Regions from separate parts of the Homo sapiens genome. Here regions 2, 3, 4, 5 and 6 are each linked to region 1. Evidence: fine-mapped expression QTL. A gene starts in region 1. Each other region holds a variant in brackets. All regions are shown on one strand. Distances are from middle to middle. Region 1 holds the start of CPPED1 (calcineurin like phosphoesterase domain containing 1). Region 2 overlaps SNX29 (sorting nexin 29). Region 3 overlaps SNX29 (sorting nexin 29). Region 4 has its middle 36 kb from the start of CPPED1. Region 5 overlaps CPPED1 (calcineurin like phosphoesterase domain containing 1). Region 6 has its middle 22 kb from the start of CPPED1.

What was found. PIP is the estimated chance that this variant, and not a neighbour inherited with it, causes the effect.
Region 2: its variant is fine-mapped to the expression of CPPED1 in transverse colon (GTEx, PIP 0.98).
Region 3: its variant is fine-mapped to the expression of CPPED1 in whole blood (TOPMed, PIP above 0.99).
Region 4: its variant is fine-mapped to the expression of CPPED1 in sigmoid colon (GTEx, PIP above 0.99).
Region 5: its variant is fine-mapped to the expression of CPPED1 in whole blood (TOPMed, PIP above 0.99).
Region 6: its variant is fine-mapped to the expression of CPPED1 in whole blood (TOPMed, PIP 0.98).

What each region holds. Positions count from the first base shown.
Region 1 is chr16:12,801,891-12,806,964 of GRCh38, forward strand. CPPED1 (calcineurin like phosphoesterase domain containing 1) reads right to left here and starts at 1,997. Exons shown (of 4, transcript NM_018340.3): 1 at 1,817-1,997. The coding sequence starts at 1,886. RefSeq lists enhancers at 177-256, 1,579-1,948 and a silencer at 2,029-2,078.
Region 2 is chr16:12,357,106-12,362,179 of GRCh38, forward strand. The region is part of intron 16 of SNX29 (sorting nexin 29); the gene reads left to right. Among named protein-coding and RNA genes, the nearest start is that of SNX29-AS2, 13 kb to the right of the region's middle. The variant C/T (reference allele first, on the strand shown) is at 2,965.
Region 3 is chr16:12,528,638-12,533,711 of GRCh38, forward strand. All of the region lies in intron 20 of SNX29 (sorting nexin 29), which reads left to right. It also overlaps a transcript of SNX29-AS3 not described here. Among named protein-coding and RNA genes, the nearest start is that of SNX29-AS3, 80 kb to the right of the region's middle. The variant C/A (reference allele first, on the strand shown) is at 1,889.
Region 4 is chr16:12,837,121-12,842,194 of GRCh38, forward strand. No RefSeq gene overlaps it. Among named protein-coding and RNA genes, the nearest start is that of CPPED1, 36 kb to the left of the region's middle. The variant C/T (reference allele first, on the strand shown) is at 1,991.
Region 5 is chr16:12,693,063-12,698,136 of GRCh38, forward strand. All of the region lies in intron 3 of CPPED1 (calcineurin like phosphoesterase domain containing 1), which reads right to left. Among named protein-coding and RNA genes, the nearest start is that of MIR4718, 25 kb to the right of the region's middle. The variant T/C (reference allele first, on the strand shown) is at 2,214.
Region 6 is chr16:12,822,881-12,827,954 of GRCh38, forward strand. No RefSeq gene overlaps it. Among named protein-coding and RNA genes, the nearest start is that of CPPED1, 22 kb to the left of the region's middle. The variant T/G (reference allele first, on the strand shown) is at 2,854.

The DNA of each region.
Region 1 (5,074 bases):
GTTACTCAAATCCAGAACTAGAGAGAATGAGGAGAAAAGCTGTCCTGAGAAAAGGAGCGACCTTGACCTTCAGGGGTGGGGAGGAAGACAGCCAGGCGAGGCAACCCCACAGAGTAAACTGCAAGAATAAATACAGCTGCCTTTTGCTTCTCTCCCTGCTCTGATTTCTTCTCAGGGCTCCCCACTGGCTGAGCCCAAAGGAAAACCAAAAGGCAAGGAGCCCACCGATGTAGCTCACGGAGGGCAAACCCCTGGGGCATGGTGGGGAAGGGAGAAAGGTTTGGAGAGGCAAAGGGAAGATATTCAGCATATACATCAACAGAATGTATAAGGTATATAATCATCCAATGGAATGTTGCCCAGCAAGAAAAGAGCAAAATCTTCATGTTGGACAAAAAAGACAAGGTCCATTAAAATACAGTCGTCCCAGGCCGGGCGCGGTGGCTCAGGTCTGTAATCCCAGCACTTTAGGAGGCTGAGGACGGCGGATCACCTGATGTTGTGAGTTCGAGACCAGCCTGGCCAACATGGAGAAACCCCATCTCTACTAAAAATACAAAATTAGCCGGGCGTGGTGGTGCGTGCCTATAGTTCCAGCTACTCCAGAGGCTGAGGCAGGAGAATCGCTTGAACCCGGGAGGCGGAGGTTACAGTGAGCCAAGATCGTGCCACTGCACTCCAGCCTGGGCAATAAAGCAAGACTCCGCCTTAAATGAATAAATAAGGTTTTACCATAGAATTACCGGAGAAACCTACTTTAGATAAGGTAGCAGGTAAAGTCTCTGAGGAAGTGAATGAACTTTAAAATGAGGTGTGACGGTTGAGAGAGCCAGGCTCACCAACCCTGCTAAAGAAGCAGAAAACAGCAAGCGCCAAGACCCTCAGGGAAAGAACGGCCTTGGCCCTTTTAAATGCAGTTCAAACAAGGGCAACAACAAAACCTGTTGCAGAACTGGGCAAGAGAGAGAATGACAACCCTGAAGGAAGTGGACACAAGCCTGATCATATAGGGCATTTAGGGTGACTTCCCTGGGGGTATAAAGCTGGTGAGAGCCTGGGAGGCGATCTGGCTGCAGGCAGCAAAAAGCCACAGAGGGGAATCAACAAACCAGAAACAAACCTCCCTCTTTACTTAGCACCTAGCATGCGTCCAACACCGGGTTACAAAAATACTTTTGATCTGTTTACGCTTCCAACAACCCTATGAGGCAGGTATTATCAAACCCATTTTTAAGGCAAAGCAGATAATCTAAATCCAAAATCCAAGCACTTCACTACGACTCTCGAATGCCCTCCCTCTCTACTGCTCTGATGGGGCAGTGTTACCATTTCGGTGAATGACTTAAATAAACGTCATTATGGAGTACAGAATACATAACGGTGAACAACCTTAATAAAACCGACACCCTCTAACATGCACCGAACGCTTATCCAGTAACACCCACAAGTATTCCCGTTTCACAGATGTGGAAGCTGAGGCCAAGATGCTAATGCACAGCTTGGAAACCAGGTCTCGCTGCAGAGTCCAAGCTGTCATTAACTATGCTTTGCTACCCTCCTCTTACTTCCCTTCTCTGGGGGAAGTTAGGTCAAGGCCAAGGAGGCTCCTAGACCAGATCGCTCTCTCGGCCTCGCCTCTCAACTGCGCCCCTGGAATCCCTAAGAGCAGGCTTTGATGCAGCTATGGCGGCTCCCAGGCCCCGGTGCAGCCCCGGATGGTGTCCGACTGGCGGAGCGCACACCTGAACAAAAGGTTCCCCCGGCGGAAGGTTCCGCAGCCCCAGAGTCCCCTCCCCGGGTGAGGGGCGGGCAGTACCTGCGGGAAACGCGGCCAGGGTCCTGCCCCTGGCTCTGTGGAAAACACCCCCCGCCTCTGCAGCCGACATGGCGAGCGAGTTTCTGGCCTTCACTTAGAACACTGCGTGGGTGGAAGCCGCGCGACTTCACACAGAACAACCGCTGGACCTGTCCCGCTTTGGGCGACGCCCTTTGATCTCGGGGCGGGACTGGGGCGGGACGGGGAGGGGCCCGGTGGCTCGGGGCGCCACTAGTGCTGCCTGGGCGGAGCGGAGGCGCCAGCGGCCCCTCTGGGATCGACCTGCGCGCCTGGCGAGTGGAGACTGTCTAGGGCACGCGTGGGCGGGGATAAGGCTTTGGGGTCAGTCCTTCCCTAAAGGCAGAGTTACTAGATTTAACAAGTAAAAATGCAGGACTCCCGGTTAAATTGGAATTTCAGATTTTTTTTTTTAAAGAATGACTGACTTGGTATAAATATGTCCTATGCAGTATTTGGGAGCTACTTACGTTAAATTTTTTTTTCATTATCTGAAATTCCAATTGAACTGGGCGTCCTAATTTTTTTAAATTTTTCTCTTTTTGCAGGTTTGAATGGAAGCGTCCTGATTTTTTTTTATCTGACAACTCTATCATAAAGTCAGAAGGAGCCACTGGGGTGGCTTACGCCTGTAACCCCAGCTCTTTGGGAGGCCAAGGAGGGAGGATCGCTTGAGTCCAGGTGTTGGAGACCAGCCTGGGCAACACGGCGAGAGACCTTGCCAATACAAAAAAAAAAAAAAAAAAGATGAAAAGGTGGACGTCTTGGAAGACTGTCTCAGCCTGAACTTCCCAGTGGCTGCCACCATCTTTCTGTTATTATCTTTGCTTGCTATGCACCAGGCAGGGCGCTAAGCACTTTGCACGCTGCTCACTTAATCCCCACTACAGCCCTAGGAGGTGGTGCTGTTATTAGCTGCATCCGTCATTTGGGGAAACTGACGCTCAGAGAGATGAACGAACTTGCACAAGGTGACACACATCTAGAGAGGTAGTAAAGCTGCGAGTAACCAAATTAGTGTCTCTTCAACTCAAGAGCCATTGTAGTGAACTACTTAGCCAGCATTTGTCAAACGTGTTGAAAATACAAATTCCAGAATGGACCTATTGAATCCAAATCTCTATGAAAATGATCTGTGTTTTGTTGTTGTTGTTGTTGTTTTGAGACAGGGTCTCACTCTGGTTGCCTAGGCTGGAGTGCAGTGGCACAATCTCTGCAGTCTCGATCTCCTGGGCTCAGGTGATTCTCCCACCTCAGCCTCCTAAGTGGCTGGCACTATTGGCGTGCGCCACCATGCCTGGCTAATACTTTGTATTTTTAGTAGAGACGAGTTTGACTATGTTGCCCAGGCTGATCTGGAACTCCTGAGCTCAAGCAATCCACCCACCCGGGCCTCCTAGAGTGCTAGGATTACAGGCATGAGCCACAGTGCCTGGCCTGAAAATGATCTGTTTTTAACAAGCACTGCAGGGGAGCTCTTATGATCTTACAAATTTGGGAAATTCTTTTCTAAACTAGCTGCCTACATCCAAAGCACTGTTTGAGTAGCTAATATGGCCATAACTACTGTTCTCTAATCCTTGACAAGAGTCACCCATGAATCATAGTGGTTAAGAGTATAAATGCCTATGAGTCCTGGAGTCAGTGGGCTTGGATTAATCCCGGTTCTACCCACTTACTGGTTGTATGCTCTTGAAAATTGCATAGTTTCTCTATGCCTCAGTTTCCCTATCTGTGAAATGGAAACAATAGTAGCATCTAGGTCATAGGGTTGCAGAAAGGCTTAAATGAGTTCATGTATCAAAGTGCTTAGAATAATAGTTCTAATAACAAATGGTAGGTACTCAATGAATATTAGCCATTGTTATTATTAATCAATCACTATAACCCTATTCCCTGAACATGGCCTGGCCCAGAGGAGGAGTCCCAAGAAATGTGAAGGAGGCCGGGCGCAATGGTTCAGGCCTGTAATGCCAGCACTTTGGGAGGTGGAGGTGGCGGATCATGAGGTCTACAGATCGGGACCACCCTCGCCAACATGGTGAAACCTCATCTCAACTAAAAATACAAAAATTAGCTGGGTGTGGTGGTGCACGCCTGTAGTCCCAGCTACTCGGGATGCTAAGGCAGGAGAATCACTTGAACCCGAGAGGCAGAGGTTGCAGTGAGCCGAGATCCCGCCGCTGCACTCCAGCCTGAGCGACAGAGTGAGACTGTGTCTTTAAAAAAAAAAAATGTGAAGGGGAAGCTGAGCACAATGGCTCATGCTTGTAATCCCAGCATTTTGGGAGGTTTAGGCAGGAGGATTACTTGAGCCCAGGAGTTCAAGACCAGCCTGAGCAACATAGTGAGAACTCATCTCTATTAAAAAATTTTTTTTAATTAAAAGAAATGTGAAGGAGAGAATGAATTATAGAAACAGACCCTGCCTCTTATTCACTAGCTTTGCAGTCATACTGGCCATTCAGTTCATTAAACATGCAAATTAATTTCCCTCTCTGCATATGCAGTTCTTTCTGCTTAAAATGCCTCTTCCCAGCTGGGCACCGTGGCTCATGCCTATAATCCCAGCATTTTGGGAGGCCAAGGCAGGTGGATCACGAGGTCAAGAGATCAAGACCATCCTGGCCAACATGGTAAAACCCTGTCTCTACTAAAAATACAAAAATTAGCCAGATGTGGTGGCGCGTGCCTTTAATCCCAGCTACTCGGGAGGCTGAGGCAGGAGAATTGCTTGAACCCGGGAGGCGGAGGTTGCAGTGAGCTGAGATCGCGCCACTGCACTCCAGCCTGGTGAAAGAGCAAGACTCTGTCTGAAAAACGAACAAACAAACAAAAAAGTATCTTCCCCTGCTGAGCTAAAGCCCATTTGAACATGAAGGCCTGCAGTTAAATAACACTTCTGTGGAGAGGCCATGCCCTACCCATTTGCACACTTTGCTGATCTAAACTAGGCCTCCCTCATTCTTTGTTAGAGCACTATGTTCTTGTCCCTTGTTGCACTTTGCACAGTTGATAATTATATGTTTTCAGGTGTAATTATTTATTTAATGTTGACTTTCCCGACTCAACTATAAGGTCTATTAAGTTGGTTACCTTTTTAAAAAATTTACTGTTTTGGCCGGGCACAGTGTCTCACGCCTGTAATCCCAGCACTTTGGGAGGCCAAGGCAGGCAGATCATTTGAGGTCAGGAGATCGAGACCAGTCTGGCCAACATGGTGAAACCCCATCTGTACTG
Region 2 (5,074 bases), 440 kb before region 1:
TTGTGCAGACATATAATAGCTTCCTCATTTTACAACTTCTTTATTATGTAAAATGCCCACATTCAGGCAGGCTGTGTAATGCACGCTCATATATCCTTTGTCAGGGTGAACAATTATCCGTCACGGCCAATTGTGTTTCAGGTTATCTACATCTGCTTCCTCCTCCTATATCATTTCAATCAAATTCTGGGTATTATTTCATGTATAGACATCTTTGTATTTATCTCTAAAAATACAAAAAAAAATACAATATCCTTATCACCCCCATTACCAGTAATTGCTTTGTGTCATCACAGTCAGTGTTCAAATTTCCAATTGCCTCATACCTTTGAATAGTTTTTTTGATTCAGGATCCATGTGAGACCCATGCATTGTAATTGGTTAATATGTCTCTATGTTGCTTTTCCTTTAAATTTTAAAAATTAGGGTAAAATATACCTAACATAACTTGTACCATTTTAACCATCGTTAAGTGTACAGTTGAGTGGCATTAAGTACGTTCACACATTTTGAGGCCATCGCCACCACCCCTCTCCAGAACTTTTCCATCTTCCCCGACTGAAGCTGTCCCCTTTAAACAGTCAGTGCCTGCTCCCCACTCCCCCTAGCCCTTGGCGACCATTCTACTTTGTTCCTCTATGAATCCACTACTGTCTTAGGTTTCTTTTCTTCAACAGAGTCTTCTCTCATCTCTCTCTCTCCCCTTCTCTCTCATAATTTGTTTACTGAAGACACTGGATTTGCCTTACAGAGGTTTTCAACCCCTCAGCTTTGCTGATGGTATCTCTGTAGTGTGATTCGATATGCTTCTTCATTTCCTGTATTTCCTTAAATTAGAGGCTTGGATTCAGGTTTAATTTTGCTGATTATATGACTGTGTCGTTGGGTGGTGTTTTCTGTCAGGAGATGCCTAATGTTTGCTATCTTTTTGTGATATTAACAGCCATCTCTTATCACTTCCTGGGTCCATTACACAAACGTTTCTTTAAGGTCAGTACCTAAGTGTGAAATTGCGGCGTTTTAGTGTATGGCGTCTTAAACTTTACTGAGTTTTGCCATTTTATAAAGTAAAAGCACCTATTTATTAACCCCCTGTTTGTGTGCAAAAGTTCCTGCTGACGCTTTTACATCCCTGCTGTGATATTTTATATATTTGTGTTTTCATCCGCTGTTCCTGGCCCATAATTCCCGTAGCCCTTGTTGTAATGTTGGAGGCACTTTAGGCCTCAGAAGAAGGGCAGATCACTTGAGATCAGGAGTTCGAGACCAGCCTGGTCAAAATGGTGAAACCCCGTCTCTACTAAAAATACAAAAATTAGCCAGGCATGTGGTGGGCGCCTGTAATCCCAGCTACTCAGGAGGCTGAGGCATGAGAATTGCTTGAACCCAGGTCAGAATCTCTCTGACCTTCTCCTGCTCTCTTTTCACCTCTTCCTTTTTCTACCCAAGGCAGGACTCTAATCTTCCCCTGCTATCCATAAAGAAATTGACCCCTATTGTCTGATTGTAGGTCACAAGACCCCCATTTCAGAAGGGGTCCAGCCCCGCACCCTGGAGGAAAGAATACTGCACAGAGAAGCCAGGAAGCATCTGGACAGACAGGCCTTGCAGGGTCTCCCCACTCAGTCTGTTCGTCTTAGACCATACCCTTTTTATCCAATCACGTTGTTAATCTTGATTATCCAGTGATGTCTCCATAAAAGGCCCAGGAAGACAGGATTCAGGGAGCTTCCAGGTAGCTGAATAAGTGGAGATTCCTGGAGGTTGATACATGGGGAGAGCATGGAAGCTCCGCACCGCTTCCCATACCTTGGCCTGTGCATGTCTTCACTGTATCCTTTGTAATATCCTTTATAATCACCAGAAAATGTGTTTCTCTGAGTTCTGTGAGCTGCTCTAGCAAATTAATGGAACCCAAGAAGGGGGTTGTGAGATCCGCATTTTATTGCTAGTGAGTCAGAAGTACAGGTAAAATAACCTGGGGCTTGTGGTTGGCATCAGAAGTGAGGGGCGGTCTTGTGGGACTGAGCCTCACCCTGTGGGATCTGATGCTGTCTCCAGGTAGATGTGTCAGAATTGAATCAGAGGACACCCAGCTGGTGTCCGCTGCAGAACTGATTGTTTGGTGGTAGGGAGAAACCCCCACACATTTTGTCCCAAGAAGTCGTCTTTGTTGATGGTTGTGGTATGACAGCAGAAGGAAAATGGTTCATGTTTTCCCACTTGTACCTACCAATACCTTTTTGCATGAGATGGGTTTAACTTGCATTTCCCTGACCACAGATGAGGTTGCCTATCTTTTCATTTGCCTGTTCCCCATTCTGGGTTTCACATATGACTTCTCACAGCCTTTGTCCATTTTTCTACTGCACAGTATTTGGTTTTCTTGCTTTCTCACTGTTTTTATATCTCCTTTTCAGTTACATGTATTTTACATATCTGCTCCTAGTCTTTGGCTTAATCATTCACTTTAAAAGTAGAAAATTTAAAACATACGTAAAAGCAGAGGGAATGATGTAACAAAAACCCATGTCCCTATCACTCGGCCTCAGTAATAATCAACTCAAGGTCATTCTTGCTTTGCTCATACTCTACTCATTACTTCTCAACTCACATTATTTGGATGTATATCCAATCCATCTTATGCTTTCATTCATAAATACCCAATATTTACTGCTAAAATATATTCACAATACCATTATCACACCTATTTTTATTTTATTTATTTATTTTTTTGAGACTGAATCATGCTGTATCGCCCAGGCTGGAGTGCAGTGGTGCGATCTCAGCTCAATGCAACCTCCGCCTCCTGGGTTCAAGCAATTCTCATGCCTCAGCCTCCTGAGTAGCTGGGATTACAGGCGCCCACCATTATGCCTGGCTAATTTTTGTATTTTTAGTAGAGACGGGGTTTCTCCATTTTGGCCAGGCTGGTCTCGAACTCCTGATCTCGAGTGATCTGCC[C/T]GCCTCGGCCTCCCAGAGTGCTGGGATTACTGGCGTGAGCCACCGCACCTGGCCTAACACCTATTGTTAACAGTAATTTCATGATATCATGAAATACCCAGTCAGTGTTCAATATTCTCCAGTTAGCTCAAAAGAGTTTTCCATGTCTTTGTGTTGATCAGGACCCTGATAAAGTTCATATAGTGCAGTTGGTTGGTGTGCCTCTTCAGGCTCTGTTAATTTGTAGATTCCCTTGCTGTCACTCTCTTTTTTCCCTTGTCTTTTTTGTCATTATTGTGGAAGACACTTGGCTCCTTGAACTGTAGGTTTTCCCAGTTAGGATTTTGCTAATTGCAATCCTATGGTGATGTTTGTCATGTTCCTCTGTCCCTTACCTTGCCTTTAAATTGGTCATTCACTCTGGAGGCTTGATGAGTTTCAGGTTTGGTTTTTTGCCCCAACGATGTCACAGGTGGTGGTGTGTGTTTCCATCAGGAGGCTCATAAATGTTGGTCTAGGAAAGCACTATTGGAGGTGCGAGTTCACACCAGACCCCATTTGTTTCAGTGGGGCCAGTATACAAATGTAATCCCCATCCCCCCACCCCCTACCGTATTGAAAGCCTAATAGTGCAGTCCCTGACTGAGTTTGCTTCCCTAATTCCTGACAGCTCCAAGACTTTGTACATGTTTTTGTGGATTTCTTTAAGTAGGTAGTTAGGAGTTTCCTTAAGAGGAAGCATATTTAGGAAGGACCTGTTGTATACTAAGAACCCTTTCAGGGAGGTGATATCATCTCCATTTTACAGGTTTACTGAGGTTCAGAGAAGCCTCCAGTCATTCTGTGAGTGTGTATGTAATAGAGCCTGGATTCAGACTCCGGTTTAATTACAAAGCCCATTTTCTTTCTCCAAGCTACACCAGCTCTAGAGAATTGCAGGAACGGGTATGGGAGAGGGGGTCCCCTTACGGTACCCATTTCCACCAGCCAAGGTTCCAGCATCCCTGCAGTGGCCCTGCCACCCGTGTTGCACATTAGAGACTTGGGCAGCATCTAATCTACCTCCTCTGAGAAAGGACAATGGGATGTGGGGATGGAGGCCTGGCTGTGACCTGTCTCCCAGTGTGAGTGGGGTAGGTCTTGAAGGTGGGCCAGCCTCTCTGTTGTCCCTGCCCAACACCAGGGGTCCCAGCCTACTCCAAGGCTAGCCTTGCAAGAGAGGGGCTCAGTGGGCAGTCAGGAACCAGGCAGTGGTCCCATTTCTTAGGACAGGTTCAGTGTCAGGTGGTAAATGGTAGGTGACTGTTGTCACTGTAGATAAATTTTTGGAGAGCAACGTCAGTGCATCATTCTCATTGTGGATAATAAAACCCGATTAACCTGTACAAATGAATAACTGCTGATATTAATAGCTAATATTTATTAATTGATATCAGTCAAAAATTTGGCTTCCCTCTTGTATATTAGTAATTCATTTAATCCTCACGTGGCCTAATAGTAATTAATATTATGATGGCCATTTTGCAGAAGACAAAGCTGAGACTCAGAAATGATGCAACTCTCCCAGCATCCCACACTGAGAAGTGGCACTTCTGGATCTGACTTAAAAAATTAAATTTTTGGTTTTTTAAATTTATTTTTTTCTTAAACTTTTTTTCATATTATACAATATGATATACTAATGGTAATATTTTTGCTTTTAACAGTTGGGAAGTATCAAAATTTTTAGACTCATGACAAACCTTAGCATCCCCATGCTAAGAAGTTAAGTAGTAAAAAAGGGTGAAATAAATTTCTTCCTTTCTCTTACCCCCTGATTTTCCTACCTGGAATCTGTAACTGTTACCAGTCTTGGGTTTCTCTTTCTAGGTATGAGTGATGCCTCAGTACACCGCTTTATTGCGCCTATACATGTTAATAACGAGCACATGCCTATACATGTTAATAACGAGCACATGCCTATACATGTTAATAACGAGTAGCCTGCTGAATTCCTTGTTCTGTGTCCTACCTTTCCTCATTTAACAGTGTGCTTTAGAGATCTTCTAATTTTACTTCACGAGTAGAATTGTTGTTCATTTTAAGAACCGTGTCTTGTTCCCTTGAACTGACAAAACCGTAATGGATTTCC
Region 3 (5,074 bases), 270 kb before region 1:
GCCTGGTTATGTCATACATTTGGGTGGATCACCTGCCTGCATGACTACCTGGCTCTGGAGTTTGCAGTCCTGGCTCTTCTCCACTGCTCCCACGGCCCCTCCATTTGAATCTGTGGACATCCACGTTACTCATGATGCATTCGGTTTGCACACTGTGCCACTGTGTGTTCTGTGAACAGGGCCACTGATCAGCTTCAGGAATGGTGGTCCCATTCTGGTTTGGGAACTGAGAAGGTGGGCAGGAAAGATAAAAACCAGTGGGTAGAAATTGCTTGTGTTTTTCCTCACAAATATTACTTAAAACTTTCAGTCCAGTATTAGATGGAACCTGCTTTCACACACACTCTTCCATTTTTAAATTCCATTTGACGTGTCCATATTTCACTGTGTTCTGTAAGAGGCATCATGACTTCTAAGTAATCTGCCATCTGCACAAATCTGAGTTGAAGAATCGGGAGGTTGAGTTTTTCCTCCCAGTCTCTGTGCCTCCCGTTGCCTCCCTTGCTAATGCCAGCTCTGAATTGGAAAGTAGGCCGGTGGGAAGTGGGGCATTTCTTTTCTATTTTGAACTCTGTATATCAGTGTGGCCCAGGGGGGACCAGAGTCTACTCCCCAAGACAAGGAACAGATGAGTGCCAGCCTCCCAACACCCACATCTTTGGGAAGCCCCGTGCTGTGTTCGTCGTCTGACATTTGGGGAAGGGGTGGTTACTAAGAGACGTGACACTTTGCAGATGGCAGAGATCCCCGGGGAGATGTGAGGTACCGTTCGTGGAGGGAGGCTCGGACTCCAAGAATTCGCTCAGTGAGACTGGACCGCAAATCGGTGACAGCTTCAGTGATTTGCCGTGCTGTCATTTAGCGCATTATTAAAATGGTTTTCTGCAGAGTAATTTAACTTTGGGAAATACATTATGTTCTCCTGCTCCTTGAGGAGAGAGAAAGTTAGGGGGCTGGAAGGTGGCAGAGTAATGTAGGTCACAGCACAAATTCCCAACTGGATTTTCAGCAGAAAACCCAGTCTGGGTTTCCCCCGCCGCCGCCCCCATTTGCTGCTGCATTCTCTCTTAGGGTTGTGAAATATATCCATTTTTTGCTGAAATATGAGCTGCCTTGTTCTCCCAGTGAGCAGGTTACGTTTAGCTCAGCGATGCCACACCCTGACCTGTGCACTGCCAGGGGTCACTTGAACCTAAGCTGCTTTGCAAGTCACTGCTAACAGGAAGTAGCAACTTTTGACTTCCCTTGTTTTGTGGACTGGCCAGAACCTTCCAGACTCCAAAGTCCTCAGCGTTACCCAGTTGCCAGTAAGGAGTGGTGATGCCATGCAAGAGATCTCAAAGCTGCAGGCATATTGGTTAGGTGTGTGTTCAGTAAAGTGTCCATGCATGTGACTTTCCATGGGCAAGTGTGTCCCAGTTCGGCACCGTTCCAACTACTCCCTCTTGCTTTTCCCCTTGGCCTGCTCTGCTGACTTACATCAACCACTTGGCCCTCTAAGGCAGGTGAGTTTGAGACCCCTGGTAGCCACATAGAAAGTGCGGTGTTGATTTTGGAGTTGCTGATAGTCTTTGGCTCTTCCACTGAGGAGGAAAGTGGTCTTTTAGGAGCTTTTAGAACAGCGCATCACACATAGTAAGCACTGTATGTGTGTCACTGTTTGTACCAACAGACAGGGAGCCTCGGGGAAGGAGATTGTGGGGAGCAGATATTTTAGGGAAAGTGATGAAGTTCTAGTGTGGAAAAACCCTAAAACACTACAGAAAGAAGATGAGGAAGTAAACAGCACCCACCCCATGCACACCTACCCTTGCACTCACTGTCAAGTCTTTTGTGTAACTGCAGAAATCATCAATATTTATGTAAGTCAAATAGAAACTCCACTGTT[C/A]TGAAATTTGCCTTCGTTTTTTTTTTTTGTTTTTTGTTTTTTTTGGTGGGGAACAGTTGCGCTCTTGTCGCCCAGGCTAGAGTGCAGTGGCGCAATCTCAGCTCACTGCAATTTCCCTCTTCTGGGTTCAAGCGATTCTCCTGCCTCAGCTTTCTGAGTAGCTGGAATTACAAGTGGCCGCTACCATGCCCAGCTAATTTTTGTATTTTTAGTAGAGACGGGGTTTCTTCATGTTGGCCAGGAGTGTCTCAAACTCCTGACCTCCAGTGATCCACCCGCCTTGGCCTCCCAAAGTGCTGGGATTACAGGCGTGAGCCACCGTGCCTGGCCACCTTTCTTAATTTAATAAAACTGGCTCAGTCCTTCTGAAAGGTAATAGTATCCACCGTAATGGCTGTTTCATAATTTATTTCACCCTTGCTCTACTTGAACAGTTAAGAGGTTTCCAGATTTTTCTCCCCCAGACTGTAGTCTGGAACATCTCGATGGATACACATTTTGGCAGGTAGAGCTACAGGCTTGATGTGTAGAAGCCATTCTGGCTTAGAGGGTATGTGCATTTTAAATTTTTCCTGACATCACTAAAGCCCACCCTCTCATACCAATTTGATATGCAGGGTTTGATCTGGATCGAAGGGGAAGCCACTCTTCCCAGGTGTGCAGAACAGCTGCAAGAAGCAGGGAGCCCCAAGTCATCCCCTGTGCCTGGAGAACAGGGCACTTGGCCCTATGGTCAGGGCGCACTGGGACCTGGGGTGGAAGTCTTGGTCTCTGGGGGCTGGAGCCCTGGCAGGTGTGTGAACTCAGGGCTGTGCTTTCCGAAGAGCACGCCAGGACTGGGTATAGTGGATGGATTGGGCGATGGGCTAGGGTGCCCTCAAAATGTTGCAGACAGAAGGCAGGGAGGGCCTGACCCAGATGGCCAAGAGGAAAGGGGGACATGGGTTTGGAAGGCCCTACCAAGAGGGGACGTGGGGCCCCACTGTCTCAGGTGTGCAGCACCATCTGCCCCGTGGTCCTCATGGCAAGGGGGCAGCAGCGGCATTGCCATTCTCTGGGATGAGGACGGTGAGAGTTGAGTAGGTGACTAGGCTGCCTGCTGGGGCAATGGAAGGGGAGCAGCAGAAGATGCCGAGTTTTGAGGCTGAATATCTGGGTGCAGAGAGGTCAAGGGGACAAGGAGGGGAAGCCCGCTTGGGAGCAGATGAGATGAAAAGGAAGCATTGGGGTCAGAAACTGGTCTACGTGCATCCTGAAGGCAGGCCCAGAGCCAGGCGAGGGCAGAGTGAACGTCTTCTAGGATGGCCGCCTGTGAGCTGCCTTCAGGTAGCAGTTTCTCCCAGGCATGCCTCAGGAAATGTATGTCTTCTCCCCTCTCACGTCACAAGAAAAACCAGTCAAGAGGTCGGAGAGTGTGTTATAACCGTCCTGCTGAAAATTAAGATGTAGCAATCACAGTTTGGAGGAATCCACAGCGACAGAGGAGAGGCAGGAGCAGGAGGTGTCACCACATGGAGCTGCAGGTCTGGGTCGCCGTTTACAGGAACCAGGACAGGAACATGTGGGAGAGACGTGGTCACGATCTCATTAGTCAGGATTGCCTTGCACTGATGCCATGCTGTAACTGTGTGTTCCTGGCTCTGTCTACTGCAAACAATGAATCATTCTTGCAAATAAATACTAATATGTTTATGTAAATTGTGTACTTTCTGTGAGTGGCATTCCAAGAAGTAAAAAGTTTTGGAAGCACAATAAGTCCTTAAATTGGCATTCTGGACACCAGACTCTGTAGCGTCATGAGCCTTGCTAGCAGGTGCCTGTGTTGTGTGGTTCTTTCAGCAGCTCCCAGCAGCGTTCACTTGTGTTTCCCAGCGTTTGTATATTCATTCTAGGCTGTCGTGTTTTGTAAATCCTACTAAGCTCAATATTATTAAGCAAACAGTTTTAGATGTCTATGATAATGGATAAGTAGTGGGAAGGATGTTAGTAATAGTTTAAGAATAACTTATGATTTGGAGAATTCCTAAGAACTTGCAGGAATTCTGACTTCACCATCTGAAATCCCAGTCTGTCTGAGGTATTTGGAAACACTCTTTGGGATGCGATTTCCTGATATAAAACGTGGAATTGGCTGACATATGGGGGATCACAGAGGTTACGAAGTCAGGGTCAGGTGCCCAGGGAAAGAGAGGGCAGGAAGAGGTGTTGGCCTTGGATGGAAGCTGGGGACAGGGCAGGAGCCTGGAGTCCATGGGGCAGAGGCAGGAGGAGGTGCGAAAGCTGAAGACAGCCTGGTCAGCCTAGCGAGGGGAGCCAGTGTCTCCCAGAGAAGCCTTCCCCTGCGTGAGAGAGCTGCAGAATCAACACCTAGCCCCAGAGCGTTAAGAACAGCAGGCCGTCCTCCTCTGCTGCCAAGTTGGCTGCGGACCCAGGGAGCGGGTGGCGCAGCACGGCTGTGGTGGCATCCCTGAGCCCCTCGTCTGTGGGGAGAGTGCCACCAACAAGTCATCAAGGGCAGGAAGGGGAAACGATGGTGCCTTTGCAAGCCACAGCCCACATCACACCTCCGGGGAGGGACAGGTTCAACTCGACAGCTCTGCTTAGAAACACGGCCGCCTTTGCCAGGCAGGGCCTCTCTCTGAACAAACTGGATTCTGGAACCAGCAGCCATCTGAGGCCACAGAGGACACTTTGCTGCTGTTTTGCCCAAAGGGCAGCTGATTCTCCTGTGGAGTGCTTTGCAGAATCCGTAGCAGCTTCCTGGAAAGTCAGCCCTAGTCACTGTTCGTGGGCTGGTACCTGTGGCCCTGTGGGTCCTGGGATAGCTTAGATGCTAAGAGGCTGTTTGAGGTCATGGAGTCTTTCGCCCCTTTTGTGATGTGTTGATGCATATTTCCACCCCACAGGAGGTGAGACACTAATGTTGCACCTCCCCACCCCCATCCCCAGCAGTGGGGTTCCTGGACAGACTTGTCACATCAGAGAGCAGCCCGTCAGCCACTGCAGCCTTTTGTCCTCATTTCTTACTTTCTTAGCCTCGTCATTATCAACCAGGTATATTATTTGGAGGGAGGAGACACCCCGCTACCTGGACTGACACCCCAAATTGGGGCCTTGGTTCTGTGATCTTCCAGCATCAATAGGCACCCCAAATTTACCTCTGTCGACTGGATGCCTTGGCAAACT
Region 4 (5,074 bases), 35 kb after region 1:
TTCTAGGAATCTAATACAGATTTTGGTACTGGGAAGTGGAATGCTGCTATAAAAAATATCTACAAATTGGCTGGGCACAGTGTTTCATGCCTGTAATCCCAGCACTTTCGGCGGCCAAGGCGGGCAGATCACTTGAGATCAGGAGTTCAAGACCAGCCTGGCCAACATGGTGAAACCCTGTTCCTACTAAAAATACAAAAATTAGCCAGGCATGGTGGCATGTGCCTGTAGTTGTGGCTACTTGGAAGGCTGAGGCATGAGAATTGCTTGAACCTGGTAGGCAGAGGCTGTAGTGAGTTGAGATTGCACCACTGCACTCCAGTCTGGTTGAGAGAGGTTGACTCTGTCTCAAAAAAAAAAAAAAAAAAAAAAAGAAAAAAGAAAAACCTAAAAATGTGGAAGTGGTTTTGAAATTGGCTAGTGGGTAGAGGCTGAAAGAATTCTGACGCATTGACAGAAGAAGGCTAGATTGCCTTGAAGGGACTATTGGTAGAAATATGGACATTAAGGGAGATATACTGATGAGAACTCAAAAGGAAGGGAAGAGGCTGGTAATTAAAACTGCTATTGTTTTAGAGAATACATATATTGTCACAGTCTGTTGTACAGATATGATAATGAAAGGTGTTTCTGTTGAGGCCTCAGAAGGAAATGAGGAGACAAAAAAGCCAAAAAAAAAAAAGTAAAAATAAAAAAAGGAAATGAGGAAACCAAAAAAATTATTGCACACTGGAGGAAATGTGGTTCTTGTTATAAAGTGCCAGGAAACTTGGCTGAATTGTTTTCTGTTATTTTGTGGAAAGTAGAACTTGTAAGCAGTGAACTTGCATATTTAGCAGAGGAGATTTCCAAGCAAAGTGTTGAAGGTGTGGCCTGATTTCTCCTTGCATTTATAGTAAAATGAAAGAGGAAAGAGTTAAATCAAGGAAAGAACTATTAAGCAAGAAGGAGCCATAACTTGGTGATTTGAAATAATCCCAGTCTACCTGTATTTCAAAATATGCTAAAACATACTCTGGAGAGAATTCCCATATTCCCATAGAGTGGCTGGAAAACCATTTGCTAAAGAGGTTGAGTGTTTTTTTTTTTTGAGACAGGGTCTCTCTCTGTCACCCAGGCTGGAGTGCAGTGGTGGGATCTTGGCTGACCGCAACCTCTGCCTCCCAGGTTCAAGCAATTCTCGTGCCTCAGCCTCCAGAGTAGTTGGGACTATAGGCACATGCCAACACACCCAGTCAATTTTGGTATTTCTTAGTAGAGATGGGGTTTCACCACGTTGCCCAGGCTGGTCTTGTGCTCATGACCTCAATTGATCCACCCACCTCACCCTCCCAAAATGCTGGAATTACAGGTGTGAGCCACCATGCCTGGCCTAATCTTTTTGTTTCTGACTACTGTCTCTTGTTTCTAAAGAGATTGAATATTTGGCTAATGGAAACAATCAGCCATCCTAGCAGAAGCCAGGAATAGAGATGAGGTTATCCAGGAAAGAGCTGTGGAGAACCCTCTTACCTGATTGTGTGGACTCTGTGAGTTGCACAGGAGACACACAAAGTTTTGAGAATGTTATATCAGCAGAAGCACTGTCACCCTGAATTGAAAGGGACAGAAGCAGAATTAAATGAAGAGAAGCTGTTGGACTTCCAAAATGTCACAGGCAGGATATGAACTCATAGAGGTACTGAGCTTCAAACATGTGTTTCCTTTAAGAAAAAGGAAGAATGACTCTGAGGACATCCTTAAGACTGACAGGGCTTCTGTAGGCTCAGAAGACAGAGCATCAGCCTGTTGAGGATTATTTTCAGGCCTTGAGACCTAATGAAATTTGTCTTGCTGAGGTTTTTTATTTTTTTAGACAGAGTCTTGCTCTGTCTCCCAGGCTGGAGTGCAGGGGTGTGATCTTGGCTCACTGCAACCGCACTGCCTTCCAGGTTCAAGTGATTCTCCTGCTTCAGCCTCCCAAGTAGCTGGGATTACAGTCATCTACCAC[C/T]GTGTCTGGCTAATTTTTGTATTTTTAGTGGAGACGGGGTTTTGCCATGTTGATCAGTCTTGTCTTGAACTCCTGACCTCAGGTGATCCACCCACCTCGGCCTCCCAAAGTGCTGGGATTACAGGAGTGAGCCACTGTGCCTGGCTTTGTCTTGCTGAGTTTTGAACTCACTTGGGACAAGTGACCCCCTTATTCTTTCCATTTTCTCTCTATGGGAATGGGAATGCCTGTCCTATATCTGTCCCATCATTGCATTTTGGAAGCAGATAACTTGTTTTATACTTTCACATTTCCACAGATGAGGAGAATTTTTGCCTCAGCATTCATGATACCCAGAGTTGCACCCAAGCCTGATTTACATGATTTACATGGTAAGATTTGGGACTTCTTGAGTTGATTTTTTTCTTCTTGTTGTTTGTTTGTTTTGAGACAGGGTCTTCCTCTGTTGCGCAGGCTGGAGTGCAGTGGCACAATCAGCTCACTCCATTCTCTGCCTCCCGGGTTGAAAAAATCCTCCTGCCTTAGCATCCTGAGTACCTGGGACTACAGGTGTGCACCACCACGCCTGAGCACACCATGCCTGACTAATTTTTGTATTTTTAGTAGAGATGGGGTTTCATCATATTGCCTGGGCTGGTCTTGAACTCCTGCGCTCAAGCAACCCACCTGCCTTGGCCTCCCAAAGTGCTGGGATTTATAGGCATGAGCCACCACATCCGGCCATTAAGTCTCTATTTCTGTTCTGATCTTTATTATTTCTTTCCTCGTATTAATTTTGGGTTTAATGTTTCTTCCCATCAATAGTGAACGATCTGAAAAAGAAATCAAGAAACCAATCCCATTTAAAATAGCAACAAAATAAAATGCCTAGGAATAAATCTAATCAAAGAGGTGAAACATAAAACATTGATGAAATAAATTGAAGAAGACACCAATAAATGGAAAGATATCCCATGTGCATGGCTTGGAAGAATTAATATTGTTAAAATGTTCGTACTACCCAAAGCAATTTACATATTCAATGCAATGCCTATCAAAATACCAATGACATTATTCACAGAAATAGAAAAAACAGTTCTAAAATCTGTATGGAACCACAGAAGGTCCTGTATAGCTAAAGGAGTCTTGAGCAAAAAGAACAGAGCTGGAGTCATCACACTACCTTCAAAATATATTACAAAGCTATAGTAACCTAAAACACATGGTACTGGCATATGAATAGACACACAGACCAATGGAACAGAATAGAGAACACAGAATAAATCTGCACACTTATAGCCAGCTGATTTTTGACAAATTTGCCAAGAACCTATACTGGGGAAAGGACAGTCTCTTTGGTAAATAATGCTGGGAAAACTGGATCTCCCTATACAGAAGAATGAAACTGGATCCCTATCTATCACCGTATACAAAAATAAACTCAAAATGAATTAAAGACTTACATTTAAGACTGAAATAATAAAATGACAAAACTACTAGAAGAAAACACAGGGAAATGCTTCTTGACATTGGTCCATGCAAGGATTTTTTTTTTTTTTTTTTTGCAAAAGACCTGAAAATCACAGGGAACAAAAGCAAAAATAGAAAAACATGTGAGTATTTAAAGCTAGAAAACTTCTTCATAGCAAAGGAAACAATCAACAGAGTGAAAAGACAACCTTCAGAATGGGAGAAAATATTTGCAAACTATATATCTGACCAGGGGTTAATATCCAGAATGTATAAGGAACTCAAAGAACTTAATAGCACAAAACCCCAAAAAATCCAATTACAAATAAGCAAAAGCCTTGAATAGACATTTCTCAAAGAAGACACAGAAATGACCAACAGATAAATGAAAAAATGCTCAACATCATTGCTAATCATGCTAATCATAGCTAAACATGCTAATCATCAGGGAAATGCAAATCAGAACTACAATGAGATATCATCTTACCCCAGGTAGAATGGTTACTATCAAAAAGACAAAAAATAACATATGCTGGCACAGAAGTGGAGAAAGGGGAACCCTTGCACACAGTTGGTGGGAATGTAAATAACTACAGCCTTTATGGACAACAGTATGCTGGTTCCTCAAAGAACTAAAAATGGAGCTACCGTATGATCTGGCGATCCCACTACTGGGATTGAAATAAATATGGGAAATGAAATCAATATGTCAAAGAGACATGTGCACTCCCATGTTTATTGCAGCATTATTCACAATAGGCAAGATATGAAATTAATCTAAGTATCCATTAACAGATGAATGGATAAATAATATGTAGGTATATATATATATACAATGGAGTACTATTTAGCCATTAAAAAGGAGGAAATTCTGTCATTGGCAGCAACCTGGATGAACCTGGAGGACATTAAGTTAAATGAAATAAGCCAGGCACAGAAAGACAAATACCGCACAATCCCCCTCCTATGTGGAATCTAAAGAAGTTGATCTCATAGAAATAGAGAGTAGAATAGTGGTTACCAGAGGCTGCGGAGGTTAGTGGAGAGGAGATAGGGAGAGATTGGTCAACAGGTACGAAGTTGCAGTTAGATAGGAGGAATAAGTTCTTGCATCCTACTGCACAATAGGGTGACTATGTTTAACTATATTTTTGTTGTTGTTGTTGTTGTTTTTTGAGATGGAGTCTCACTCTGTTGCCCAGGCTGGAGTGCAGTGGCATGATCTTGGCTCACTGCAACCTCTGTCTCCTGGGTTCCAGTGATTCTCCTGCCTCAGCCTCCCTGAGCTGGGATTACAGGTACGTACCACCACATCCAGCTAAGTTTTGTTAAAAATAGAAACTAAAAATGTAGAGCTGGGATTTTGCCAGTTGGCCAGGCTGGTTTCGAACTCCTGACCTTGGGTGGTCTGCCCAGCTTGGCCTCCCAAAGTGCTGGGATTACAGGTGTGAGCCACTGTGCCTGGCCAACAATATTGTATTATTTATTTTGAAATAGCTAGAAGAGAGAATTTTGAATGTACTCACCACAAAGAAATGATAAATGTATGAGGTGATCGACATGGTAAATACCCTGATTTAATTTTTACACAATGCATATATATATTGAAACATCAAACTATACCCCATAAATATA
Region 5 (5,074 bases), 110 kb before region 1:
ATTCAAGAGTTAGAGGGCCTCTGCTCCTTACAACTGACGTGCTCAGTTTCCACACCTGTGCCGAAGACCTGGAGAAGGCACCTTTAAGGTCCTGATAGAGGGGCTCCCAGGACAATGTCTGGCACCCAGGAGGCTTCACCTAAATGAGTGGTATTTGCTTTTGAGAGTCTCACTCTGTCACCCAGGCTGGAGTGCAGTGGTGCAATCATGGATCACTGCAACTTCAACATTCAGGCTCAGGCGATCCTCCCACCTCAGCCTCCCATGTAGCTGGGCGTGCACCACAATGCCTGGACTCATTTTTTGTGTTTTTTTGTAGAGACAGGTTTCACCATGTTGCCTAGGCTGGTCTCGAAGTCCTGGGCTCAAGCGACCCGCCCACCTCGGCTTCCTAAAGTGCTGGAATTACAGGGGTGAGTCTCTGTGCCTGGCCATGCTATTTTTTTTTTACTTTCAACTCAATCAATTCATATGCAAACATTTTTAAGTAAAATTTAAAAGGCAATGAAATCAAAGCATTTTTGAACTTATTTTACAAAGCAATGTTGTAGATTTGTACTTACACTGTGGGAAATAGGGAAAATGTCTTTTAAGTGAAGGCAAGTGCAGTAAATAAAAAATAACTTGAACTAGTAGACGGAATGAGCGTTTCACTAAGCTGGAGATACTGGAATTTTACAAAGGAATCTCACTGCTAATTTCAAAATGACACTAATTGCTATTTTTGAAACATGATCTCAAAGGAGAAGATATAATATTTTGACTTCATAAACTTCAACAGACACTGCTGTTCCCCATGTTCTGGGGGCTCCTTTTTGAAATGTTGTGATGAAATTAAAAAATTAAATCATTTTTACTTGGCCGGCTGTGTTGGCTCATGCCTGTAATCCCAGCACTTTAGGAGGGGCTGAGGTGGGCGGGTCACCTGAGGTCAGGAGTTAGAGACCAGCCTGGCCAACATGGTGAAACCCTATAGCTTCTAAAAATACAAAAATTAGCCAAGTGTGGTGGCGGGTACCTGTAGTCCCAGCTACTTGGGAGGCTGAGGCAGGAGAATCACTTGAACCTGGGAGGTGGAGGTTGCAATGAGCCGAGATTGCGCCACTGCACTCCAGCCTCGGTGACAGAGTGAGACCCTCTCACAAAAAACAAAAGAACAGAAAAACCCAGACATTTTTAGTTGAAGAGCAATCTACAACCTCAGAGAAGAAACTTCTCTGTTTTGTTCATCCCTCCATCCTCAGTGCCTAGCGTGGGATCCATGCTATTTGCTGAATGGATAAACGTTGATTTAACTTTAGGAATCAGCAGCATACATTTACACACGCCAGATTCTCAATTTATAAATATTTACCATCAGGACTTGATTTCAACTTTAATTAGCCCAACTGTTAAGGATACCTCCAAAGTGAGAAATCTAATCCATCACTTTACACCAGATGTAGCTTTGGCAGTTAGTCTTTTATCTAGGTTTATAGTGAATGAGAATCAGACATTAAATGACTAGTGTGTGATGTTTTGCGGTGAACTGATTGGAACCTAAAAAATAGGCCAAACGTGGGAAAATGAATTCAAGACTAAATCTGAGGAAATAAAACAAAGAGGGTAAACTTCCTCTAGCTGATAAGGTCCCACAAACTCTGGATTCTATGGATGCTTAAAAAAAGGTGGGGGGGGGGGCGGGGGCATGAGTGTGAGATAGTTTTTTAAAAACCCCCCCCTTTTTTTTTTTGAGATGGAGTTTTGCTCTCGTTACCCAGGCTAGAGTGCAGTGGCACGATCCCTGTTCACTGCAACCTCCGCCTCCCAGCTTCAAGCGATTCTCCTGCTTCAGCCTCTGGAGTAGCTGTGATTACAGGTGTGCGCCACCACACCCTGCTAATTTTTATATTTTTAGTAGAGACAGGGTTTCACCATGTTGGCCAGGCTGGTCTTGAACTCCTGACCTCAGGTGATCCACCGACCTCGCCCTCCCAAAGGACTGGTATTACAGGCATGAGCCACCACACTCAGCCTAAAAATTTCATTTTAAATGGGAGGGCACTGTAACATGATTGTCACTGCCCTGTGGACAGGTTTGCTGCATTTGTAAAAAAATCTGACTATGAAATTATACATTCAAAGGTGTGTTTACTAACACTTAATTGGTGAGGTATGTTAAATTAAGTTGAGGCTCAAGCTGCCTCCTTACATATTTTATTTTTATTTACTTA[T/C]TTTTTTGAGACAGGATCTTGCTCTGTTGCCCAGGATAGAGTACAGTGGTGCAATCACAGCTCACTGCAGACTTGGCTTCCGGGGCTCAAGCGATCCTCCCACCTCAGCCTTCTGAGTAGCTGAGACCACAGGTGCATACTATTATGCCTGGTTAGTTAAAAAAAAAATCCTTTTCGCAAAGACAGAGTCTCACTATGTTGCCTGGGCTAGTCTCGAACTCTTAGGATCAAGCGATCCTCCTACTTCGGCCTCCCATAGTGCTGGGATTACAGGTGTGAGCCACCATGCCCAGCCTTCTTTATACATTTTAATTTCAGCCAAAGGTTTCTCTGTATACACAGTGAACTGGATGTGTAAACAGAATAGAACATACTCTTGCCAATCTCCGGTTTTGGCCAATCACAGGCAGTCAACTGTTCAAACTGTGTTCAAATAAGGCAAATGCTGAGTTGTAACCCATCTGGCTGTTTTTGTACCTCACTTTCCACTTTCCTTTTTCTGCCCACAAATCTCTCACCATTTGGCTGTGCTCGAGTCTTTCTGAGCCTCTATTCTGGTTCAGGGTCTGCCTGATTTACGAATTATTCTTTGCTCAACTAAACTGTGAACTTTAATTTGTCTAAGGTTTTTTCTTTTGAAACAGGTGTGTGCTTTAAAAAATAAACAAAGGATCAAATTTTATCACTACATTCTGTAAGAATTTTTCATCTACTTCAGCGACTACCATCCTTTTAAACCAGTACCCCCTTTTGTTAAAATTAAAAGTAGCATGCCTTCCTCATCTACCCTGAAAACTCTCAGACTGGCTGTAATCGTCTATCTTCCCGCATATCCCAGGAGCCAAGAGAATTTTGTCTAGCTTTACTTCCTATAGTTTGCATTTTGAACAGAGTTGATCATTATTTTCCCTTTCAAATCTACACAGCTATATCAGCAGGCAGCAGGCATGTCCCCAAACCAGGTCCGCCTGTCCTGGAGATTCTCAAGAACGCCCGCAAGAAGGACGCCAGCACCCCAGGGGTGAGAAGCATGCCGGTCTAGCTAATGGATAAAGCACATTTGCCTGCTGTGGGGTCCCCAAACGGTTCGGGATCATACAGAACAACAAACACGCCCTTAGTGAGTGCTCACTATGAGCCAGACATGGTGCTAAGTGACTTTCTTTTTTTTTTTTTTTTTTTTGAGATGGAGTGTCACTCAGTCGCCCAGGGTGGAATGCAGTGGCGTGATCTCGGCTCACTGCAACCTCCGCCTTCCCAGGTTCAAGTGATTCTCGTGCCTCAGCCTCCTGAGTAGCTGGGATTACAGGCACTCACCACCACGCTCCACTAATTTTTTGTATTTTTAGTAGAGATGGGGTTTCACCATGTTGGCCAGGCTGGTCTCGAACTCCTGACCTCAGGTGATCCACCTGCCTCAGCCTGCCAAAGTGCTGGGATTACAGGTGTGAGCCGCTGCGCCTGGCCTGACTTGTCTTTTTGATTTTATATATGACTCTCCTTAAGGGATACACCAACTTGACAAGGTTGGGGTGAGTACCCTCTTTTTACAAGTGGGAAAACTAAGGCAGAGAAATGTTTAGTGGCTTATCCCAAGCAACTTAAGAAGCCAAATCCTGTCTGTTCACCTGCCATGTTATAGGACCCCCTGCCCACCGGCCCAGACGCTAATTCCCCCTGTACAAACCTCCAAGTTTTGCCTTATCTGCACAGTACTCATACTACTATTTACTGAATCATTTTCTTTATTTTTATTTTTTATTTTTTGAGTCAGAATCTTGCTCTGTTGCCCAGATTGGAGTGCAGTGGCGCAATCTCAGCTCACTGTAACCTCTGCCTCCCAGGTTCAAGCCAATGTCCTGCCTTAGCCTCCCAAGTAGCTAGGACTACAAGTGTGTGCCATCACGCTTGGCTAATTTTTGTATTTTTAGTAGAGATGGGGTTTCTCCATGTTGGCCAGGCTGGTCTCGAACTCCTGAGCTCAGGTGATAATTAAATCATTTTCTTTAAATTGATAAGCTAGTTCTATTTTTTTCTAATACATGTGAAGCTGATCACCCAATTATTAGACATCTTACATGCACCATGGACCCTCTTGTCTGCAATCCATCACATCCTGGTCTTCAGGGGAACATGTGCCTCACCCAGGCACGCCCTCCACTGAAGACCTTCAGGAGGCTTGTTCTGGGCAGACCTTTCTGTCAGTCAGGCAGTTGTTACAATGGGGTCGTCAGATGCATCCTAAACTTAGACACATACAGAATGTGGACAAGGTTCTGGGGAGAGCAAGAGCGTCACCCTGTAATGGGAACATTTCTCTAAGCCAAGAGTTGGAAAATTATCACCGGCAGGCCTACCACCTGTTTCTGGAAATAAAGTTTTATTGGAACACTGCACTGTCTGTGGCTGCTCTCTTGTTATGAAGGCAGAGTTGAGTAGTTGCTACAGAGACCATAGAGCCACAAAGCCCAAAATATTTACTATCTGACCCTTTACCGAAAAGTTCTATTGACCCCTCTAGGCGAAGCATTTCCCATACAAAAGTCAGCTTGTGGCCTGGGTGCAGTGGCTCATGCCTGTAATCTTAGCACTTTGGGAGGCCAAGGTGAGCGGATCACTTGAGGTCAGGAGTTTGCGACCAGCCTGGCCAATACAGTGAAACTATCTCTTCTAAAAATACAAAAATTAGCCAGATGTGGTGGCGTGTGCCTGTAATCCCAGCTACTTGGGAGGCTGAGTCAGGAGAATTGCTTGAACCTGGGAGGCGGAAGTTGCAGTGAGTCAAGATGGCACCACTGCACTCCAGCCTGGGTGACAGAGTGAGACTCTGACCCCAACCCCCACCAAAAAAAAGTCAGTTC
Region 6 (5,074 bases), 21 kb after region 1:
AGCTGTGTTCCTGAGCAGTGCTGGCCACTGTCCCCAGTGCTGTGCTGTGACAACCCACCATCCAGTTGTAAACATCTCTATCACAATGTGCACAACAGCCGCAAGCACAACACAGTATGACATTCAGCCATGCAGTTCTTGACACAGATTATTAGAGCAAAAGACATTCAAAAACAAGAGAGCAAGGAGATTTGCTTTCCTGTTTTGTCCCTGCCTTATGAGAAGAAGCTGTTCTTTGGAAACAGTATGTCCTGGGTCAAGTCCATGTTAAAAATTACATGAAGCTAACACTGGCTCAAGGCTTTTAGAGTCCCAAGAACTGCAATCGTAGTGCCCCTTTCTTCGTAATGGAAATAATACCAAAATCAGGATGAGAAAGCCCAATAAAATTCTGATGTTTTTCTATCATTGGCACTTAGATGCTTATATTTTTGAAATATTGTATATCGAATTCTTTCCAATTTTTTTTTTCTCCTTATCCAACCCTTTTTTGCTGGTGGACTGTTCATGTTTTCTTGGCCATCTGAGTGTTCTGACGTTACAGTTAATGCAAAGGGTAATGTGTGAAATTGAAGGAACTTCTTTAAACCTCCACGGAAGTTTTATTGCCTGATAAAATTATGGTCTTCATGAAATACTAAAGCAATAAAGGACAAATGAGTTTCTTTTATTTTCTTTTTTGTTGTTGTTGACATGGTTTTGTTCTGTCACCCAGGCTGGAGTGCAGTGGCGCAGTCACGGCTCCCTGCAGCTTTGATGTCCCAGGCCCGAGTGATCCTCTCACCTCAGTCTCCTGAGTAGTTGGGACTACAGGCACACACCACCATGCCTCGCTAAATTTTTTTTTTTTTGACACAAGTTCTTGCTCTGTCACGCAGGCTGGAGTGCAATGGTGTGATTATGGCTCACTGCAATCTTCACCTCCCAGGCTCAAGTGTTCCTCCCATTTCAGCCTCCTGAGTAGCTGGGACTACAGGTATGCATCACAATGCCTGGCTAATTTTTTTTTTTTTTTTAAGAGACGGGGTACAGGGTTTCACCATGTTACCCAGGCTGGTCTTGAACTACTGGACTCAAGTGATCCACCTCCTGTGACTCAAGTGATCCACTGGCCTTGACCTCCCAAAGTCATTGTTTTGCATGGCCTAGGAATGTTATTTTGTCAGCTGTTTTCTTTACTTAATACGCTGATGTCATATATACCAATATATATGTGTGTGTATGTAAATGTTGATATGCCATATATGTGTATGTATAAAATAGTCCACAGTTTTACAGTTGCACGTGGATTCTGAAGTTGTTTCAAATGCTGTTCTTTTAGGTAGAACTCTATGAAATTGCTGTGTTCATTGGTCAAAAATGGCCAAATACCAGTCATTTCATATGGTTCAACCTACTATCTATGAGGACTATTGCAATAAACAGCTTAAATATATTGGTGCTCTTTTTTGGAGAATTTCTTTAGGATAAGTTCCTAGAAATGGGATTATTGGGCTAAATAGCACATACACATAAATTGTTGATGGGTTTTGTCACCATGTTCTCTTTCCCATCAATAGTGTAAGGGGCTCCCCAATATCCCTCACACTTGGCAAACTAAACTATAAGTTATGGGTAAACCAGTTTACTCTTTTTTTTTTTTTTTTTTTTTTAAGATGGAGTCTTACTCTGTCACCCAGGCTGGAGTGCAGTGGTGCAATGTTGGCTCACTGCAACCTCTACCTCCCAGGTTCAAGCAATTCTCCTGCCTCAGCCTCCCAAGTAGCAGGGACTACAGGCGTGAGTCACCATACCCAGCTAAATTTGTATTTTTAGTAGAGACAGGGTTTCACCATGTTGGCCAGGCTGGTCTCGAACTCCTGGCCTCAGATGATCCGCCTGCCTTGGCCTCCCAAAGTGCTGGGATTACAGGCTTGAGCCACTGTGCCCAGCCCTAAACTGGTTTACTCTTATGAAGTATGTATGCACTCCTCTTTCTGTGGATCTTTGTTTCCCGTTGCCTCTCTTTGGGGTGATCTTTCCTCTGGCATGCAGATACTCAGGTGCCCCCCTCAACTTGCATTGCACAAGAATCAGGCAGTAGAAACTGTGAGCCCAAACAGATGTGCCAGACAGGTCTCAATCAATTTAGAAAGTTTATTTTGTCAAGGTTAAAGACATGCCTGTGACACAGCCTTAGAATTTCCTGATGACATGTGCCCAAGGTGGTTAGGATACAGCTCGCTTCTATACCTTTTAACTAGACATCAGTCAATCAATACATGTGAGATGTACATTGGTTCGAGCTGGAAAGGCAGGACAACTCGAGACGGGGGCTTCCAGGTTATAGGTTGATTTAAAGATTGTCTGGGCTGGGCGTGGTGGCTCCTATAATCCCAGCACTTTGGGAGGCTGAGGCGGATGGATCACGAAGTCAGGAGTTCAAGACCAGCTTGTCAACATGGTGAAACCCCGTGTCTACTAAAAATACAAAAAATTAGCCTGGCATGGTGGCGGGTACCTGTAATCCCAGCTACTCGGGAGGCTGAGGCAGGCGAATCGCTTGAACCCGGGAGGCGGAGGTTGTAGTGAGCTGAGATCACACCATTGCACTCCAGCCCAGGCAATAGTGTGAGACTCCATCTCAAAAAAAAAAAAAAAGAAAAAGAAAGAAAAAAAGAAAATGAAATTATGAAAAAAAAAAAAAGATTTTCTGATGGGCAATTGACTAAAAGAGTTAAGTTATTATCTAAAGACCTGGAATCAATATAAAGGAATATCTCGGCTATGATAATGGGTTGTAGAGACCAAAGTATTATCATGCAGAAGAAGCCTCCAGGTAGCAGGCTTTGGAGATAATAGATTGTAAATGGT[T/G]TTTTTTTTTTCTTTTCTTTTCTTTTTTTTTTTTTTTTGAGACAGAGTCTTGCTCTGTCTGTCGCCCAGGCTGGAGTGCAGTGATGTGATCTTGGCTCACTGCAACCTCTGCCTCCTGGGATCAAGCGATTTTCTGCCTCAGACTCCTGAGTAGCTGGGATTACAGGCATCCACTACCATGGCCAGCTAATTTTTCTATTTTTAGTAGAGATGGGTTTTCACCATGTTGCCCAGGCTGGTCTTGAACTCCTCCTGGCCTCAAGTGATCTGCCTGCCCTGGCCTCCCAAAATGTTGGGATTACAGGCATGAGCCACCGTGCCTGGCCTGTAAATGTTTCTTATCAACTTTAAGGTCTGTGTTGATGTTAATGCTGGTTGGCTTTTCCTGAATTTCAAAAGCAGGGAGAGTATAAGGAGGCATGTCCGACTCTCCCCCAACCATGGTCTGAACTAGTTAGGTTAACTTTGGAATGTCCTTGGCTAAGAGGAGGGGGTCCATTCACATGGGCCTTAGAATTTTATTTTTTGTTTACAAAACTGAAACTGTGCCTCCTTTTGTGACAACTGTAACATTGAATTTCCTGGTATGTGATTTCTAAAAAAACTGATTTATATATTTAAAATTCCTGTATATCACATTAATTATTTCCTGAGTTTGGTGTGCATCATGAGTACAGAATATTATCAATAAAATAAAAGTAAATTTAAAGTAAGCTGACAAGGTGCCAGCTCCAATGTTAAGCATTTGTTTTATTGAATCTTTACAGCCACGCTGAGAAGTAAGTATTGGCATCCACATTTTACATAGAAAAAACTTGGGCTCAGAGAGGTTAATTCTCTCATCCAAGGTGGCATAGCTACTGTATTGATGATCTATTGCTACTTGACATGGTTTGGCTGTGTCTGTACCCAAATCTCACTTGAATTGTAATAATCCCCACGTGTCAAGAGCAGGGCCAGGTGGAGATAATTGAATCATAGGGGTGGTTCCCCCATACTGTTCTTGTGGTAGTGAGTTTCACAATATCTGATGGTTTTATAAAGGGAGTTCCCCTGCACATGTTCTCTTGCCTGCTGCCAGGTAAGACGTGACTTTGCTCCTCCTTTGCCTTCTGCCATGATTGTGAGGCCTCCCTAGCCATGTTGGAACTGTGAGTCCAACACGTCCCTTCAACCTCTTTCCTTTATAAATTATCCAGTCTCTGCTATGTCTTTATCAGCAGCATGAGCACAGACTAATACACTACTTAACAAATTACCACAAACTTAGCAGCCTTAAATGACAAATATTTATTATTTGACAGTTGCTGGGAGCCAGGAGTTTGGGCAAAGCTTAGCTAAATACTCTGCTTATGGGTTCTCAAGAGGCTATAACTGAGGAGTCAGTCAGGGTGGGGGTCACCTCTGAAGACTCAGCTGGGGAAAGGTCTGCTTTGCAACTTCACTTACATGGCTGTTGGAAGGATTCAGTTCCTTCAGGTTTCTTGGCCCAAGGGCTTCAGTTTCCTGTTGGCTGGAGGCCACCTTCAGTTCCTTGGCACATGGCACTTTCTAACATGGTGGCTCACAACATGGAAACTTGCTTCATCAAAGCAGCAAGGGACAGAAACTTCTAGCAAGACAAAACTCACATCTTGTGTAGTTTCATCACAGAAGTAGCATCCAATTACTTTGACCATATTCTGTTGGTTAGAATCAAGCCACCAGGGCAATACACACTTAGGGGAGAGGATTACACAAGTGCACAAAGACCAGGAGGTGGGAATCACTGGGGCCATATCGAGTCTACCTGCCACAGCAATTGAAGAGCAAAGCTGGGATGTGAAGCCAGTTTCATCCAAGTCTGAAGCTCCCAACAGTTAACCATTAAGCTCCACTGCCTTCCACAGAAATTAATCTGATTACTTTTTAGAAATATTAATCTGGTTATTCCAACATGGACTGCAGTGTTTATCTCAATGGGTTACCCTTTTAAATCTGTTCTCTCAAGTGAGAACTGAAAGATCCATCCAAAGTGAATGAATTCACTAGTTTTATGAATTTTCTTAAGAGGTAACTTTAGAAAGGAAGACTAATGACCTTAAGACTTCCAATGCTAAATCTTGACCCTGAGCTATTAGACCTAGCCTTCCTATATGATTTTTAGAACATCTGACCAATTTGCATAAAGAAATATACAAATCGGGCAGATGATTAGATTCAAAGAAGATAAACAAAACTT